2 separate regions of the Homo sapiens genome follow, and region 1 is linked to region 2. A link means that fine-mapping ties the variant in region 2 to the expression of a gene that starts in the linked region. Tissue or cell type: thyroid. Region 2 holds a variant in brackets; the other region holds the start of a gene. All regions are shown on one strand. Distances are from middle to middle.

Region 1 (8,184 bases), 32 kb before region 2:
GACTGCAGCAACTTTCATGCAATATGAATTCCCATTAAAAAGTTTACACTAGCAAAATTTTCCAGGCATAAATATCTTGTGGAAATTGGTTCATTCAAATTTGGGCTCCAAAGTGGCCTTTAACACATAGCAATTATTGCAACCATGAAGAAACAGGTAGACTGTGGACACAAATCTATAATAATATGCTTTATGATTTATTGGGGGTCTATTTTTGCTCTCCTACATCTACATGAAAACCAAGAATCTTAAAATATCAAAAGTGGCAGTTTAAAAACAAAACCACTTTCCAAATCCCAAATGCAAGGATTCAGTGGGGAAGGGTCAGGAATCCTGTCACTGATTCATATCCATTAAAGTTGGTTCCAGTGAGGACATACCTTCCCTATAGATTCCAGGAAGTTCAACTACCATGTCTGTTTATATCTCAACTTGACTTCTCCTAAGGTAAAGTAAGTTTTACGGAAATAATTCTGTATTTATATATTTGCTTTTACTTATTCATAAGAGATTTGAGGCAACAGAGAGTTCCGCTGTGCAGTCTTGGGAAAAGTGAGGCTGCTTCTGCACAGTCACTCCTGGCTTCCTCTACCAGGGGCCCCAGGCTGCTGTGGGGAGCACTTGCTGTCCTCCAGCAACCCACTGCCATCAGGGTGAGGCCAGGGAAATGAGAGGAAGGGCTCTTGCCCTGCCTGTGGCTTTCTCTGACTTGGCTGGAAACAATGGATTTATTTTAAAAAGCAGTTTTAAGAGACACATGTGTTCACATATAATCATTCTTTTGAGGGTATGTCAGTTTTTAAATGGCATGATTCGCCCCAAATAAAATATCCCCCATTTCTCACATCTAGCTGTCTTCTCTGGAAGAATACAGTGTGCTGAGGCATATTGGAAACTGGGCCTCACATTTCTTCACTAGGAATTGAGTTTTCTCAAGGATTAAGCTTTTGTGCTTAAAGAGAAAAGTGCAAAATCTTTGGGAGGAAAAAAGGAAAACAACGACCTGTCAAATTTCTTTTAGCGCCTATGACTAGTGTTAACTGACATGCTCTCAGAGTGCAATAAAAAGCCTGCAAACTGCTGCTAAAAAGATGGTTTGACCTTTTAAAATGGGAACTCCCCCACCCCATATCCATATTAAATAGACGAACCTTGGGAGCTCTAGAGTTTTAGATTAATAAGTGAAATGAGGTTGAATTTCCAGAAAAAGGGTTTCCCTGTAGGCTGCAGACTGGCTAATTAGGGTGTTCTAGACCTACATTGTAACAGCAGGTAGAAGGCAGGCCCTAAACCTTTTAGCTATTGTCGTTGCCACCTGCTCAGAGTCTAGTTCTGAAAGGAGGCGGGTGCGGAGTTATGAAAATTTGGTAAATATAAAAGTCCCGGACGCGACCGCCCGTAGCCTGCGGCCCCTGGCGGTTGAGGAGCCGCGGCGATCCTTGGTCTTCACCGCAGCAGCCAAGCCCGGCGCGCACCAACCGGCGCTGCTGAAAGTTGGAGAGCTCCCAGCTCGCCGATAGAATTCGGCGGTGGGCGCCAGGGGAATCCCTTCCAGTGCCGCAATTAGGAAAGTTTTAAAAAGTAAGGACCCTAGACAGACAAGAGATCCATCCTTTCCTTTAGCATAAGAAACACCCCGCGCCGCGCCAGCCGAACGCTGCTCGCACAAGGCTATCCGCCCTTCTTGGCCGGGACGCACTCGGTGCCTTCCAGCTCCCCACCAGAACTGGTCCAGGGGGCGCGGAAACAGAGAGGCAACTGTGTCCGGCTTGTGGTTCCAGACGGAAACGCCTCCGGGCTCCCTGGCCCGGGGGACAAGGGTTCGAAACTTCAACAGTCGCGAGGGCAAGGACAGAACTACCAACTCCCGCTCGGATGCCCGGGACCTGCTCTTCCAAGCCCGCTCCGGTTTCTCCAAAGGACGCGCGGCACAGCCCATGCGCCCCCGGCACTCCACTCCACTCCTCTATGGTTTCCCCCAAACTCTTCCCGGGGAGCCCCACAAAGCACAGACGGCGCCCTGAAACTCGCCAGGCACTCGCCAGCCATCCCCACCTCCGCCTCTCGAACCCTCCTTGTCGCGTTCTTCCCGCCCCGCACCTTTCTCCTCGCGTTTCTGGGAAGTCAGAAGCAAACCACGAGAAAATGCCTTCGCAAGGAGCCTCCCTACACCCGCCCTGTCACTGAAACAAAAGCGTAGGGAGGAGGGAGGTGGGAGAGGAGGCGGGAGGAAGGTTTAGAAAGACGATGGGGACAGCAGTAGGAAGGAGCTGGGGAGGGGGGTCAAGGTGGCAAGCAGAGCTGGGGGCCCAGAGTCCGCTCCCGTGCCGCGCGGCGAGTCGCTTACATGCCCAGGTCGCTGTAGGTGTTGAAGAACTCCATCTGATTGCACGCCTGAATCCAGCCCACCACCCAGGTCTCGTGGCGGGGGATGGGGGGCATGACCACGCGGGCGGAGGCTTTGAAGTAGGGGGTCTTGTAGCGCAGGACGATGGGCGAGGTCTCCTCGATGCGCGTGGGGCACTGGTCGATGGTGGCGCACACATCGTACACCACGATGTTCTCGCGCCGGATCCGCGCCTTGCAGGTGATGCTTTGGATACAGCCCATCCTGCAGCCCGGTGCCGGCACGGCGCGGCGTGGGGCAGCGCGGGGGCCCGCGCGGGCAGCCGGGGGCGCCCGTCACGCCGGCATGGCGACGCGCCGCTCGCTCCCGGTCAGACTCAGCTCGCACCTAGGAGCGGGGAGCCGCCGGGCATCCTTGGGGAAGCCCCCTCCTCTTGCAGCCGCGCGGGGTCCCCGCTGCCCCGACGTCCGCCCACGCCCGCCCCCTCGCTCCGGCAGGGCGCGCGGAGGGTGCACTCCTAGGAGGCGGCGGGTGCCCTCGCCGGCTCCAGCGCCCGGGCGGAGGGCAGGGAGGGGAGCGGCGCTGCGAGGAATGGTGCCCACCCCGGGCCGGAGCCCCCCGCCCCTCGCCGGAGAGGAGGAGGCGGCAGCGGCGGCGGCATGGAGCCGGGGGAGGGCGGCGGTGGCAGCGCCCGGTCTGTCTGCCTCCGCGGCGGCAGCAGCAGCAGCCGCCGCCGCCGCCGCCGCTGCATGAACCTCTGCACCACGGCTGCCCCCCGCGTGCAGCGCACCCAGCGGCGGGCGAGCGGGCGGCCCAAGAGGCAGGCGGAGGCAGCAGCGGCGGCGGCGGCGACCGGAGCTCCCGCCGGCCCCGCCCCGTAGCCGGACCACACCGACACTCCTCGGCCCGGCTGCCTCGGCCCGGGGGGCGCCAGGAGGCTGTGGCCCGGGGTGGAGAGCCCCAACGGCTGGAGCAGCACAGGACGTGCTCCGCGGAGGAAACTGGCTGTACGCCATGAGTTTTGTCCCTATTCGGCTGCCGTCCGGGTGGGGGGGGGGTAATGTGTAAGGGTGGGGGTGTTTAAAGGGCCGCTAGCGCCGGGGTGGGGCCCCGCACGTGGGGCTGAGGCGGGGCGGGGCCCTGGTAGGTGGTGCCCTGGGGTGGGGGTGGGGGACTAGGGCGGGCCCAAGCGCCACCGGGTGGGTGAGGCCGAGCAGGGCGCGGCGCTGTCCAGAGTCCAGTGGGGAACCCGGTAGCCCAGTAGGGGCTGTAGAGTGAGTGTTTCGGGCAGCAGAAGGGTTAGGGGAACAGCTTTATCAGAGATTGGTCGTTATTCAGAATATAGCTTGTTGGATTAGATTTAGGCTTGAGCCCTTTTAGTATCCTACCTTCAGAAAGGGTGAAGGGCGGGCTCCAGCAGCGTTACTAAATGCAGTGTATTTGCCTCTTTGCCTGACTGGGTTTGTTCTGGAAGCTCTTCTTTCCACCACTGTGTGTAGTGGGGATACCGGAAGAATCCCTCCGTACTCCAGCACTAAGTCTCTCATATGCCAGAGTTTTGGCAGACATTGGGCATTGTGTACAGTATGACCACGGTCATGTGTCTGATACTGCAGTCTAATGTGCCAAACAGGAAGAATATTTAGCAGATGCTTTTACTAGGCATCTTCTTACATTTTTATTTTCAAAGCCAATAGCTTCTAAGTATTTCTTCTGCGATCATTGAACATTTGCTGGATCTGCTGCCCAAGTGTGAAATACTGACTAACAGGCCGCAGGAGGTGCTAGAGTTAGTCTTTAGCTAGGACAGGTGTGACGAGTAATTTAAAAATTGATTGAGATCTAAAAGCACTCTTCATCCTTGTTTTAACTGTTCTGACACCTTGGTTCACTTTATAGTTAACAAAAAAGCAGTTTTTCCCTTTGATGACTCGTCTCTCTCATTTTACCGTGTAGCCACAGACCTCAATCACTGGTCCTTTCATTCAGCAAAGGCTGACTGCCTGCCTGGCAGGAGCCAAACATAGTGCTAGGTACTAGGGATTCAAAGTTGAAAAAGAGCACATGGATCACTGGAGAAAATAAACCTGTTAACAAGTTATTATAGTAAACTGTGACACCTGCTTTAGTGGGGTTGTGTATCCAGTGCCGTGGAAGGCCAGACATGTAAATCTCTGGCCACATGTAAATCCCTCAGTGGTCAGAGAGCCACTCAGTGGCTCTCTGGCCACTGAGAGATTTACGTGTGACTTTGCTCAAGTAGTGACATTTAAATTGAATACTGACAGACTGTAGAGTCTCACTGAAAAGAGAAAGGTGAATGAGTAGTACAGGACCAGCATTTGGCAAATGCAAAATGCATAGAGATATGAAAGAACTCATCCTGTACTGAGGGGGAGAAACAACTCACAGTCAAGGCATTTCTCAAGGTGTTATGTGTCGACCATGGGCATCAGAATCACTGTCCAAGAATCAATTGGTTGTTGATAGACCATATCTTTTTTCTTTTTAAAATTAAGACTACAGACTTTATTTTGATTTTACTAGTTTTTCCACTAATGTCTTTTTTTCTCTAGAATCTAATCCAAGATATGATGTTGCATTTAGTCATTACATCTCCTTATTCTTCTCAATCTGTGACAGCTTCTCAGTCTTTCTCTGTTTTTCATGACCTTGACATTTTTAAAGAGGACTGGTCAGATATTCTGTAGAATTGTTCCTCATTTGCATTTATCTGATGTTTCCTCATGATTAGACCAGGGTTTTGGATTTGGGGGATGAATACCATGAAGATGAAGTGCCTTCTCATTGCATTATGTCAGGGGTACATGATAGCAATATGACTTTTTACTGGTGTTATTAACCTTGATCACTGGGTTTGGTGAATAATTTTTTTAACTTTTAGGTTCAGAGGTACAGGTGCAGGTTTGTTATATAGGTAAATTGCATGTCATAGGGGTTTGTTGGACAGATTATTTTATCACCCTGGTAATGAGGATAGTACCCAATAGGTATTTTTTTTTTATCCTCTGCCTCCTCCTACCCTTCACCCTCTAGTAGGGCCCAGTGTCTTCTCTTGATAGGACCTTATCTTAAACTTCAGTGGAAGCCAATGAAGGCAAGCCATGCATTTTGAGAAAAATTACTCTGCATCCATATAGAGAATAGAGGAGGCAGCGTTTCAGAATATTGTGATGACAGATACTTTGACCCTCGGCTAGCTTGGGGCAGTGCTGTGGGGCTGGAGAGGCCTGGCTGCATTTGCATTTAAGAATCACTTAGGAGGTAAATGTATTTACTTGGTAACTGAACAAGGTGATAGAAGGGGAAGCAGCTTGGGACTGTGGGTGATGTCATGTTAAGTTCGAGGTTCTTGGAGGTATTTGGGGGGCAGGGTGGGGTCAGAGTTTGAGTTTCAGTGGTTATTAGGTTCCAGGCAATAGACCAAAAGGAAAGCATTTCATTGGGGAATGTAGTTATGTTTCTTAATTTGAGTTGCTTGTCAGGCTGCAGTTTTGTGGATAAATAACTCCTTTGTCTTCTGGTGACACATGTTAAACCTTCATAAACGGGGAGGGGAATGGCAGCCTTTCCCAAAATATAGGGAAATCACATAAGGAAGAATATCTTATTTTTCAAACTTAAAATAAGATTTTGTTATATTTAGTAAAGCCAATAAAATGTAACATTATTCATGGACTTGGACCCTTGACATTCTCAGAGGGTTCATCCATGACCTTGGTGAGTCTCCAAAATCATGAATGTCATCATGGCATATAATTTCCACCATAAAGTACGGTAAAGTGTAGCTGAAAAATGTAAAGAATCTTTTTAGACTCTTAATGGTTCTATGAATATGGGGCCAAAGTAATTTCTAAAGCTACTTAAATAAATTTTGCCATTAAAATAAACTTCTTACTTCATTACCTTATATCTTTACCTTATTAACGCCCTATTTCCCTGACTCTGTGAAGAAAAAATTGATCACAGTATGAGAATTATTGTGCGGATGTCGATGAGAAAGTAAGGAGAGCTAAGTGGTACTGGGACACAAATGCCAGTGTTAGGAGTGGTCATTCACTAGCTGAGTGGCTGGCAAGTACACTCTGGCCTCCTGGCAGCCCCATTCAAATTTGTGTCTCAGCAAATTACCTCATGACAGGGACCTTTTGGATTACTCACTGGGGGTTTTTATCATTCATGCATATTCAGTCTGCAAATGCCAATGCAGGGCTATCTGTAGCTCAAATGAAATCCCCAGAATTTGCAACAGTTTCTCTGTGCTGCTCTTCTAAGTTTCTCTTTCTGTCTCCTCATGGTAAGTCCCTTGCTTCTATTAACACCTTTAAAGCTGTTTCACAGTTCCTTGCTCACACTTGTCTCTCCCAATAAGCTGTTCACTCCTCAAGAGAATGCACCATCGTGCCCTGTTGCCCAGCCTAGTGCGTGGCACCTAGGTGCTGCTCAATAAACATTTGAATGACTAAAAGTATTCTTAAAAATCCAATACAACATTTCCCATACATCATATTTAGTAGAATGCCAATAAAATGTAACATGATTCACAGACATGGACCCTTGACATTCCCTATAAGCTTCCCTATAAGCTCTGTCTCAATACCTGCAGCAAGCATATGTTTTTATTCTAATTCTTTCTGCACTGTACCTCTTTGTCCCCCCACTCTTTTCTTAATGTGGCTCCTTGATGTTAAGTGATGCCCTTTGTCTTCGAGCACTATACATGATCTCAAGGGTTATCAGTTCTAGACACCACGAAAATGGGAAAGCTCCAATGACAAGACCTTGACAACAATCATTCCTTGTGAATAACTTCATTGGAGTTCATTCTCAGGGCACAGAACAAATGATCCTTTGTACTTCAAGCTTCTGATGTTCTTGGGCATGACAGAGCTCCTCAGTTCCCTGAGTTAGAGCTGTGCTGTGCACTCTCCAGGATGTTGGCCTCTGTGTCCCCTTTACAATCCACTCCTTTAGCTGTAGATGACTCGGTCCTTCCAGAAGCAGGGTGATCTCTGACTTTATTTTTCCTCTTGATTGACTCATTACTCAATTTGTCAAGTGAGCTTTTTAGAAACTCTGGGTCACAAGGGCCTATTTTCTAGTTGACCTTGGCAAGGGTTTTCAGAGACTATAGAACAGACTACCAAGAGATGTTGAGGAATTGCCTCTGGAGCTGTTAAAAACAGACATGGATTTCCGTCTCACTTAGATGGCCCAAAGACAGGCAAGAGGTTAGCCTCAGGCCCAAGACTGCAGGATTGAGGAAACAGCTCCTTCTTGATTGTGAGCTCTCCCTACCACTACTTCAGAGCCAGGGTTACTAATTTCTCTTCTAGAACAGGCTAAGAAACTCAACATGGAGTGGAATATGGCAAGGGACTCAGGCACTTTGCAGAAGTCATTCAGCCCAAGATGTGGCAGCTATTGTGTGGTTCAAGTAGTCAATATTTATCAAGCTTTTTCCACTAGCCTTGCATTAGATTAGGCCACAGAAACTATGAAGAAGGATACCTTGGTTCCTCAGCTATTCTGTTGTAGGTCTGCTGTGCCTATCTCTGCTGCTTTCAAAGTCCTTTTCTCTGTCCTGATCTGTCAGATTTGGCACTCTTGAAAGAAAACTACTTTTAATCCCGTGATTCTGCAAATCCTGATTCTTCTCTTAGCTTCTCTGACTCCTCTTGCTTTCCTCATTTTCCAGGGTCATACTTCCTAAGGGTCTCCCCTCTTCTTCCTGAACTCCCTCAGGGTATTTATCCATGTTTTAACTGGTATTTTTCATGGATGTCTTCCAAGTTTGTCTTGCCAGCCCAGCATTT
Region 2 (8,184 bases):
TACTTGGGAAAGACAGCAGAGGAGTGAATCTCTCCCCTTTAGGCTCTTGGTAGCTCTGTAGAAAATCTGGCCACTGAGCTGGCCCAGGCTCTGTCATTGCCCTCCCTAATGGTTGTGTGTATGTGTGTGAGAGCGGGGGAGGGGGGAGAGAGAGAGAGTGTGTGCTTTAATTTCCTTACTCTCAGATGGGGATAGTGTTCTCTACCTTACTTGTTTCACAGGGTTGCTCTGAAAGTAAAATTATACAAAAAAGGAAAGTAAATATGACTGTGCTTAGAAAAAATGACTTATGACAATTTAAGATATTATTAATTAGTGATACTAAATCAGTATTACTCTGCATTCCCCTGAGATAGTGTAATCTAGTGGTTAAGACTCTGTTTTGGCTCTTACTAACCATGTGATTGTGGGCAAGTCACTTAATTTATTTGAGCCTCAGTTTCTTTATCTGTGAAAGAAAGATAACTTTACCTACTTCATACAGTTGCTGTGAGGTTTGAATAACTTATTACCAGTAAAGTGATTACCCTAGTGTCTAGCATATGGAAAGTGTTTACTTCATCAAGTGTTTGCTTTCCTTATTCCTGCCCTGCCCAAGAGGACTTTACAGCTCTTTGCAAATGCTTTTGTATAGAAATGACCTCCTGATCCTCTTATGACCCACTGAAAACCAAGAATATTTGCAAAATGGAGAGACAACATGGGCCCAAGGGAACAAAGCGTTGAAAGACCTAAATTTTAATTCTGGTACTTTGGCCAATTGGCCAGGTGATCTTAGACAGACTCTTTGTTTATGGTGGTTAGCATGTCTGCAATATGCAGATGAGGGAGCTGAGGTCCTGATTCATCCCTCCAAGCTAAAATAAATGCTCAAGTGTCTCCTACCTTTAAAAACCAACCAACCAACCAACCAACCAACCAACCAACCAACCAACCAATGAACGAACCAGCCAACCAATACTCAATCAAACATTTCAATAAAATATTTTCTCTTTTTGGTCATAGTCAAGCTTCTTAAAAGTTGTCTACATTAATCTCATCACTTTTTCACCTGGGTTCACTTCCTAACAACAAATATAGCAGTCTAATTTGGCCTTTACTACTTTGTTACACCTACTCTGGTTAAAATCTTCTCTTCATTGACAAAACCAATGGACAACTTTCAAACTTCATCTTCCTTAACTTTTAGACAAGAAGGCAATGACCTTCATGGATGATAAGTAACATTTTCAAGTTTGACTCCAGACATAGCAATTCTTGATGCTGAAATCAAAATTGCCATTTAAAGGGACTTTATTCTGCTGAAAGCATCCTATATTCAGATACAAAATGTGAATTATTCAAGTAATCAAGGAAACCAGGTCTACTAAAATATCTTACTGTGACATCAGACACCAAGAGTGAAGTCTGATGACAAGAAAATGATTAGAGCACAAAGCAATCTGTTGCTTTGTTCTTATATGAAATAGTGATGGTGAAGTAGGCACCTGCTGCCATTTGTACCTGATGGATCCTAATACATCTAATCATTCTACCTCTGTCCAATCAAAATGCATTTGTCCTGTGTCACATACCATCAAACCCTTCTTTGTTAAGAAGCCTCTACAAAGATCGAAGCAAAATGTAAAAAGTAGTCATTTGCATTTCAACAACATTTTCAAGGTATAATTTTAGGCACATAGGTAGGTGAGTATGGGCAATATTTTTGGTTACGGGTATCTTTTCCAAGCTCCCTGAAATCCCCACCTGGAGTCATTTGCCTTTTAATGGGACATTTGGTGAAGCTGCTAGCCTGAGCTGAGTGAGATCATTGTAGAGAAGGTTTATCATTCTCAGAAGCTGTCAAGATGATTAAATAGGGCTGTTGTGCAATAGGTCCCAAGCAACAGCAGCAATAGAGTGGGATAAACACTGGACTGGGAATCAGGGAACAGGTTCCATGACTCTGGCAAGTCTCTTCCACTCTCTTAGCCTTGGTATAGTCACTAGTAAAATGAGGGGCTGAATTAGATTATTTCTAAGGTCATGTCTAGTCAATGCTGAAGTCATTTTAAAAAACTTCCTCTCTCTACTGACTCTGCAGCTCTCCTCCTAATTTCTTTGACCTATTTTTACCTTGCCTGATTTTACCCCTACTTTCCAAATTGATTATTTCTTATCTCTCTGCCTTATCACTTACTTTCTAGCTAGTTCACTCAAAGATAAGCCCAGGAAATATGTATCTCACAAACAAATTGTCTCTTTCTTTGGAGATAGTATATCTCTCTGCTAGGTTAACAGCAGGGCAATTACGTGGCAAATCTGGGATGTGTCCAGATTATTCACACTTACAAAGCAAGGCTCTTTAGCCTGAACTCTTGGCCCTTTTCTGAAGTTGTTCACTGATGCTTGTGTGAAATGCCAGTTGGGTGACCAGGTTTGAAACCAGATAATTCCACTAGACTACAGGGTCCTATAGGGAGTAGACTACAATCTCCCCATGGCTCTGCTCTGAAAGGAATTTTCTCTAAAGATTTTCAAACTCTGGAGTTGATGAAACTGTTTATATATATTTTTTCTTGCTCTGGTTCCTCAAACCCAAGCTGACAGAGGGCTGGAGCCTGTAGACTGTGGTGATCCACCCACTAAACATGTCAACAAGAACTATACCCTCTTTCATGGGGCACATTTGGCATTAATATAATGAGCTTTTAAAAAATAAAAAATTAAAACCCTCACAATTAAAAATACTGTGAAATTTCAGAACATCAAGGATAAAGAGAATATACTAAAAACTTTCCTTGTAGGGTTGACAGATAAAATATAGGACACCAGTTAAATTTGAAGTTCATATAAACAATGAATAATTTTTTTTTAGATTAAGCACGTCCCCAATATTTCATTGTTTATCTGAAAGGTAATTTTAATCAGATGTTCTGTATTTTTATTTGCTAAATGTGTCTATCCTATTTCCTAGAATAAAGCTAGATCGCCCAAATATAGCATCAGTAACAGTGGGTGGTAAAAGGCAATATGAGTGCTGCTTTCAAAATTCCAAGACACAATCATTTTTCAACCCAGAATCCCATATCTACCCAACTCATCAACGAAGTATAAGGGGGAAATTAAAACACTGAAAGACATTCAATGACTCAGAAACATTATTTCCATAATACATATCTTAGAAAATCATCCAGTGTGTGTTCTAGTAAAAGCAGGGAGTAAATCAAAGGAGAAAGACATGGGGTCCATGATAGTATGACTCAGGTTCAGAAAATCAGTTAAGGGCTACCTAAGATGACGTGTGCTCAGTGGAACTCAGGTAACAGGTAAGCTTCTTTGACTGAAAGTAACAGAAAATCCAACTCAAATTGGCATGAAAACGATAACAAAAAGGCAGGGAGGGCTCTCAGGTTGATTTAATGGTTCGAAGATCAATGAAGATCCAGGCTTTCACTGTCTCTCTGTTCTGCCATCCTTGGTATTGGCTTCTCCAAAGGCTGCTTTTCCTCTTGGTCAAGATGACTGCCAGAGCAACCTAAGCAATGCTTTTTGTTTGTACCTAGTGGGAGAGTACTGACTTCTCCTTCCCAGCAAGTCTCTCCTCACATCCCATTTGCCCAAAGTGGCCTACAGCTGCCCATTCCCAGAAGTGTCTAGCAAAGGAGATGGAGTAGCTTTGATTCTTCCATTCAGTGTCAACTGTGTATGAGGCGCTGTTCTAAGCACTGATGATAAGGCAGAAAGTAAAACAGACAAAACTTCCAACTTTTACAGAGCTCAGATTTAGGAAAACAGACAATAGACAAAGTAAGTATGTAAAATATCTGTATGCTATATGGTCGTACGTGCTGGTGAGACAAAGCAGAAGAGAGACTAGGTAGTATTTGGGAGGGTGATTAAATTTTAGGGAAGGTGTTCAGGAAAATCCTCACTAAGAATGTAATGGGGGAATCAACCACACTCTTTCTATGACACGTACAGAACAAAACATCCAGGTCAAAGCGGAGGGATGTAGAGCCTGGGGAAAGAGGTCTCCTGGGCAAAAGGGGGACTTCCTAGAAAACTTGATATAATGGAAAGTTTAAAAATAATGTTAGAATCAGGAGAAATAAAAACGTGTAGGAAAGAAATTATACTCATAGAATACTACTTGGCTCCTCCATGAATTAACGTTTACATAGTCACAATACTGTAAATGCTGTTATTAGTTTTAGTATTTTAGAATGAATTGTTGGAAAAAGTATTGATGATGGAATTATGATTACCAAGCCAAATGTAAATGTTATCAACTTGAATCCTCTAAGGTTGCAATCCTGAAGATGGGAGGTAGAAGAGCTTAGGGCAAGGCTAAGAGCACCAGGGTTCTTTTTGTACCCACTGCAGTGTTAAGAGAGACTATCTATGTTTGGCAAAATAAGAAGACATAGTGTATGTTTATTACTTAAACTTTCAAAAGGAAGGAAACAATACAGGAACCAGGAACTAAATATAGTGCTATAATTGTATTGGGAAATTGGGGAGGAAAGATGGGAGGTGATATAAATGAGTTAAATCTTTTAGAAACTCATATACACCATAGAACCACAAAAGAACTACAGTATTTCTATGTGACTATAGAATAAACATGTTGAGTTAGTGGGTTGACTTTGGGAAGGTAAGACTGAAGGTGAGAGCAAAAGGCAAACTATTGTTTTTGTTGCTAGTTCTTTGGCAAAATTTGACTTTTGAACTATGTGCATTCATTACTTTGACTTAAAAAAAAGTCTGCTCTCCATTCTAG[A/G]ATTTTTTTCTATATTCTTAAAATTGACACATGCTTATTATGGAAAAGTTTGAAAATATGGAAAATTGTCCAGTATTTAAAGGCAATTCTTAAAACTATTGGTATATTTTCCTTCACTCTTTTAAAATTGATTACATTTATACACATTTGTGATTATGTTGAGTTAGGATACATTTTGGTGCATTCAAATTCATGAATCTAAATTGATTAGCTTAGATTCCATACATAATTTTTATCATTTTACATCCCCATCAGGATTGAAAAGAAGAACAAAACAAACATATTAAAGTCTTTGTATGAGAGATGTTTGACATTAAATAGTGGCAGTAAAATTAGCCAGTTCATCAAGGAAACTAGATCCCAGCAAGCTGAAGTCAAGTTCACACTGTTATTCAGTGAGAGCTGTTAACTACTAGCCGAAACTAAATGACAGATTTGTTTTATATCTGAAAATGATAACATAGGCATCTTATACAATGAAGACATGGATACATATCCTGCCTTCCTCACTGGTCTTGGCTCCCACTCCTCCCAACCTCGCTCAAAGCCCAAGCCACTCACATCTAGCTGTGTATCTCCAAACACACCAGGCTTCCTCCTGGTTTGTGCTTCAGCCATGCTGTTTCCTTTTCTTGAAATCCTTTTTCCAATCTAGTTGCCCTGGACAAAATGTTATCAATCCTTTAAGTCTCCTGTGATGCTTAGCTAACTCCTTCTAGCTAACTCAGCAAAATGGATATTTTGCTGCTTCTTTTCCTTGTGCAACCACTGAACTTGATCCATGCCATGACTAGCGTATTCATGGTGTGGAGTGAAGAGTATGAGTGTAGAGTCAGACTGTCTGAGCTTGGCTTCCAGCTCCACCTCTAACTGACCATGTGAACTTGGGCAAGCCACTTACCCACTTTGATCCTCAGTTTACTCATCTGTAAAATGACATTAATAATAATACTTACCTCAGTGGTTATGGTAAGAATTAAGATAATCAATACAGGAAAAGCACTTGGCAGGGTGACTGGCCTACAGTAAGTGCTCAGAAACATATGCTATTATTATTTGTTGTTGTAGCTGCTGCTGTAATGATTAGCTTGCATGTCCAGCCATTGAGGTTAGTGACTGTAACATTTCATCTTTATCTACTCTGTCTCACTTTAGAATCTGGCATTGTGTCCTTGAAAAATTGTGTAGACTGATTGAATAAGTGAACAATTTAGAGTGAATTCAGCTGCCTTTGCTTTTATAACTATTATTTTAAGGATGGTAGTTCTAACAGTAGACCTCAGAGTCATGCAAAAAGCTAACCAGCATTAATTCAGTGAAGCAATATTTTTTCTACTTAAAACAAAGAACCACTTCCTGAATACATTTACTGTATTTTCAGCTCTGAGATGGAGCTGAAAATACAGGAACGATAGGGGAGGTCTCCTAGCAATGCAAGACCTTGCCTCTGTCCTATAATATTTTTTGGAGTCATAGAGAAACAGGTATTGCCAGTCTATATAGATTCAGAACTAAATGGGATAATGCATTTCAAAGAGATATGAAGAAATCCAAACCACAGGAAGCATCATTAAAGTACTTTTAAATTATGTTATGAAATATAACTATTTGGGTTTTCCATGTTATTGCTTTACTTTCTTCTGTATAGGATTATTATTAATAAGCCAGGGAGATTTCCCTTGAAGCCCAATTATATTTAACACCTTTGCAGTGATGCATGACTGACTTATGACCTCAGGAGTAAGTTCTGATGGTGGTTCTGTTCTGATGATGTGGCCCCACCTGTCTGCACCTTATCCCAGAACCAAAGCTCCATTTGCTCCACTATTACAGTGAGAAGGCACTTCAATCCCCCTGCAAGAGAATCAGGTTCTGATGGCAATTATTTGAGTCTGACTCCACGCAAGACACTTCAGTAGATACTTGGGAGAATAATATTTGTCCTGCTTATCTCCAAAGGCTGCTGGAAGACTCCGGTGAGCCATTTTATAAAGTACAAAGTGATCTACAAATACAAGGTCTTATTATTATTAAAAACACATCTCATCTTCCACTGGAACGTTTAGATAAAGGAGTGTGGGGTGTAATAAAGAACTAAGCTAGAGCGAGAGAAACACTGAAAAACTAATTACGAAATGTCACACAAGTACCACAAAGAGAGTGATTACTTGATTAATTAATGATAGGAACCCTACATTTAAGTCTTTCAGTTATACTTGCATCAGTCCTCTTTGCCTATCAGAATGCGGTTTGTTTCTGCCAACGAATAACTATCAAACCACTGAGGCCTAACTGATGTGTGATTAATGTGGGCTCCATTAATTGTGTGGCTGAGTTTTATGCATGAAGCTGTATCCTTGATTTTTCACCTTTAATTTCCTCCTGTTTAACTGCTGGTCATAAAATTGTTTCAAATGTATCTGCTGAGTCTGAGAGCAAGTTTTGCAACTTGAAAAGTGCCTGAGTCAGTTTGGGCATCTTGTTTGGTAAAACCGACTTGGGGGAACTCTTAACGCTGTAAGATGAATTGCTACTTGGCTTCCACTCCCAGCCCTGCTGGCTCCCTTCCTGCCACTGCTCACTGGCACTGCATCTCATCTATTATCATTAAGCACATGCATAGCATTGATAATGGCAAAAGGCTTAATAACTTTCTTTCTGATAGCCCATCATATGTGGCTCTATTCAACCTTATTTTAGACAGCTAGAGATGATGACATCTGTCTTTCTGGTCTTTTTCACATTCATTTACCATCTCTGTTAATATCACCTGATTTTCTTTTGGGGCAGCACCCCTTCCCATCTCTGCTTTTATTTTCTGTGTTTCAAGTAGGGCTGGTCTCATTTCCCTGGCTCCGGAGCTAGGCCTGGACAATTAGAATTCCAGTGATTGGTTCGGGGATAGGCATGTGACCCAAGCTCGGTCAACTCTCGGTCAACTAGAGAGACAACCTAGGTCAACTAGACAGGCAACCCTAGGACTTTAGCAGGAACTATTAGGAGGAAATAAAAAAAAAAAAGCTCTTTGTCCTCTTGGGTTTTTAGATTGCTAAAATACTAAATCTAGATCTTCCGGTCTCTTTGTCACTGCTGAAGAAGAACCCAGCTGAGAATGAAGCCAACACAGAGAAAAAGAGAGCCAAGAGATGGAGAGAGACAAACTCCTGCTGACATTGTTTGAATACGTGGATTCAGTTGTGCCTAAAGACAAGCCTGGGCCTGTACTTTTCTATTGTGTGAGCCGTTTGAATAGGATTTTGTCACTTATAACCAAGAGTACTGATTCAAATGATGATGCTGGTCACCATACCTTTCTGCCTTAGTATGTCATATATGTACAGAGACTTAAGAAAATTAGAATTAGAAAAATAAGGTTTAGGATTTTAGAAATATATGCATATTTAAATATATAACTTTTTCCT

What was found. PIP is the estimated chance that this variant, and not a neighbour inherited with it, causes the effect.
Region 1: it holds the start of FAM78B, and the variant in region 2 is fine-mapped to the expression of FAM78B in thyroid (GTEx, PIP 0.98).

Annotation. Positions count from the first base shown.
Region 1 is chr1:166,163,639-166,171,822 of GRCh38, forward strand. It overlaps FAM78B (family with sequence similarity 78 member B), which reads right to left and starts at 3,363. Exons shown (of 2, transcript NM_001017961.5): 1 at 2,348-3,363. The coding sequence starts at 2,610. It overlaps LOC112268276 (a long non-coding RNA gene), which reads left to right and starts at 2,239. Exons shown (of 3, transcript XR_002958633.2): 1 at 2,239-2,416. RefSeq lists enhancers at 2,230-3,132, 2,304-2,473, 2,574-2,623, 6,538-6,617 and silencers at 3,014-3,073, 3,114-3,603, 5,638-5,697.
Region 2 is chr1:166,195,460-166,203,643 of GRCh38, forward strand. All of the region lies in intron 1 of LOC112268276 (a long non-coding RNA gene), which reads left to right. Among named protein-coding and RNA genes, the nearest start is that of FAM78B, 33 kb to the left of the region's middle. The variant A/G (reference allele first, on the strand shown) is at 4,763.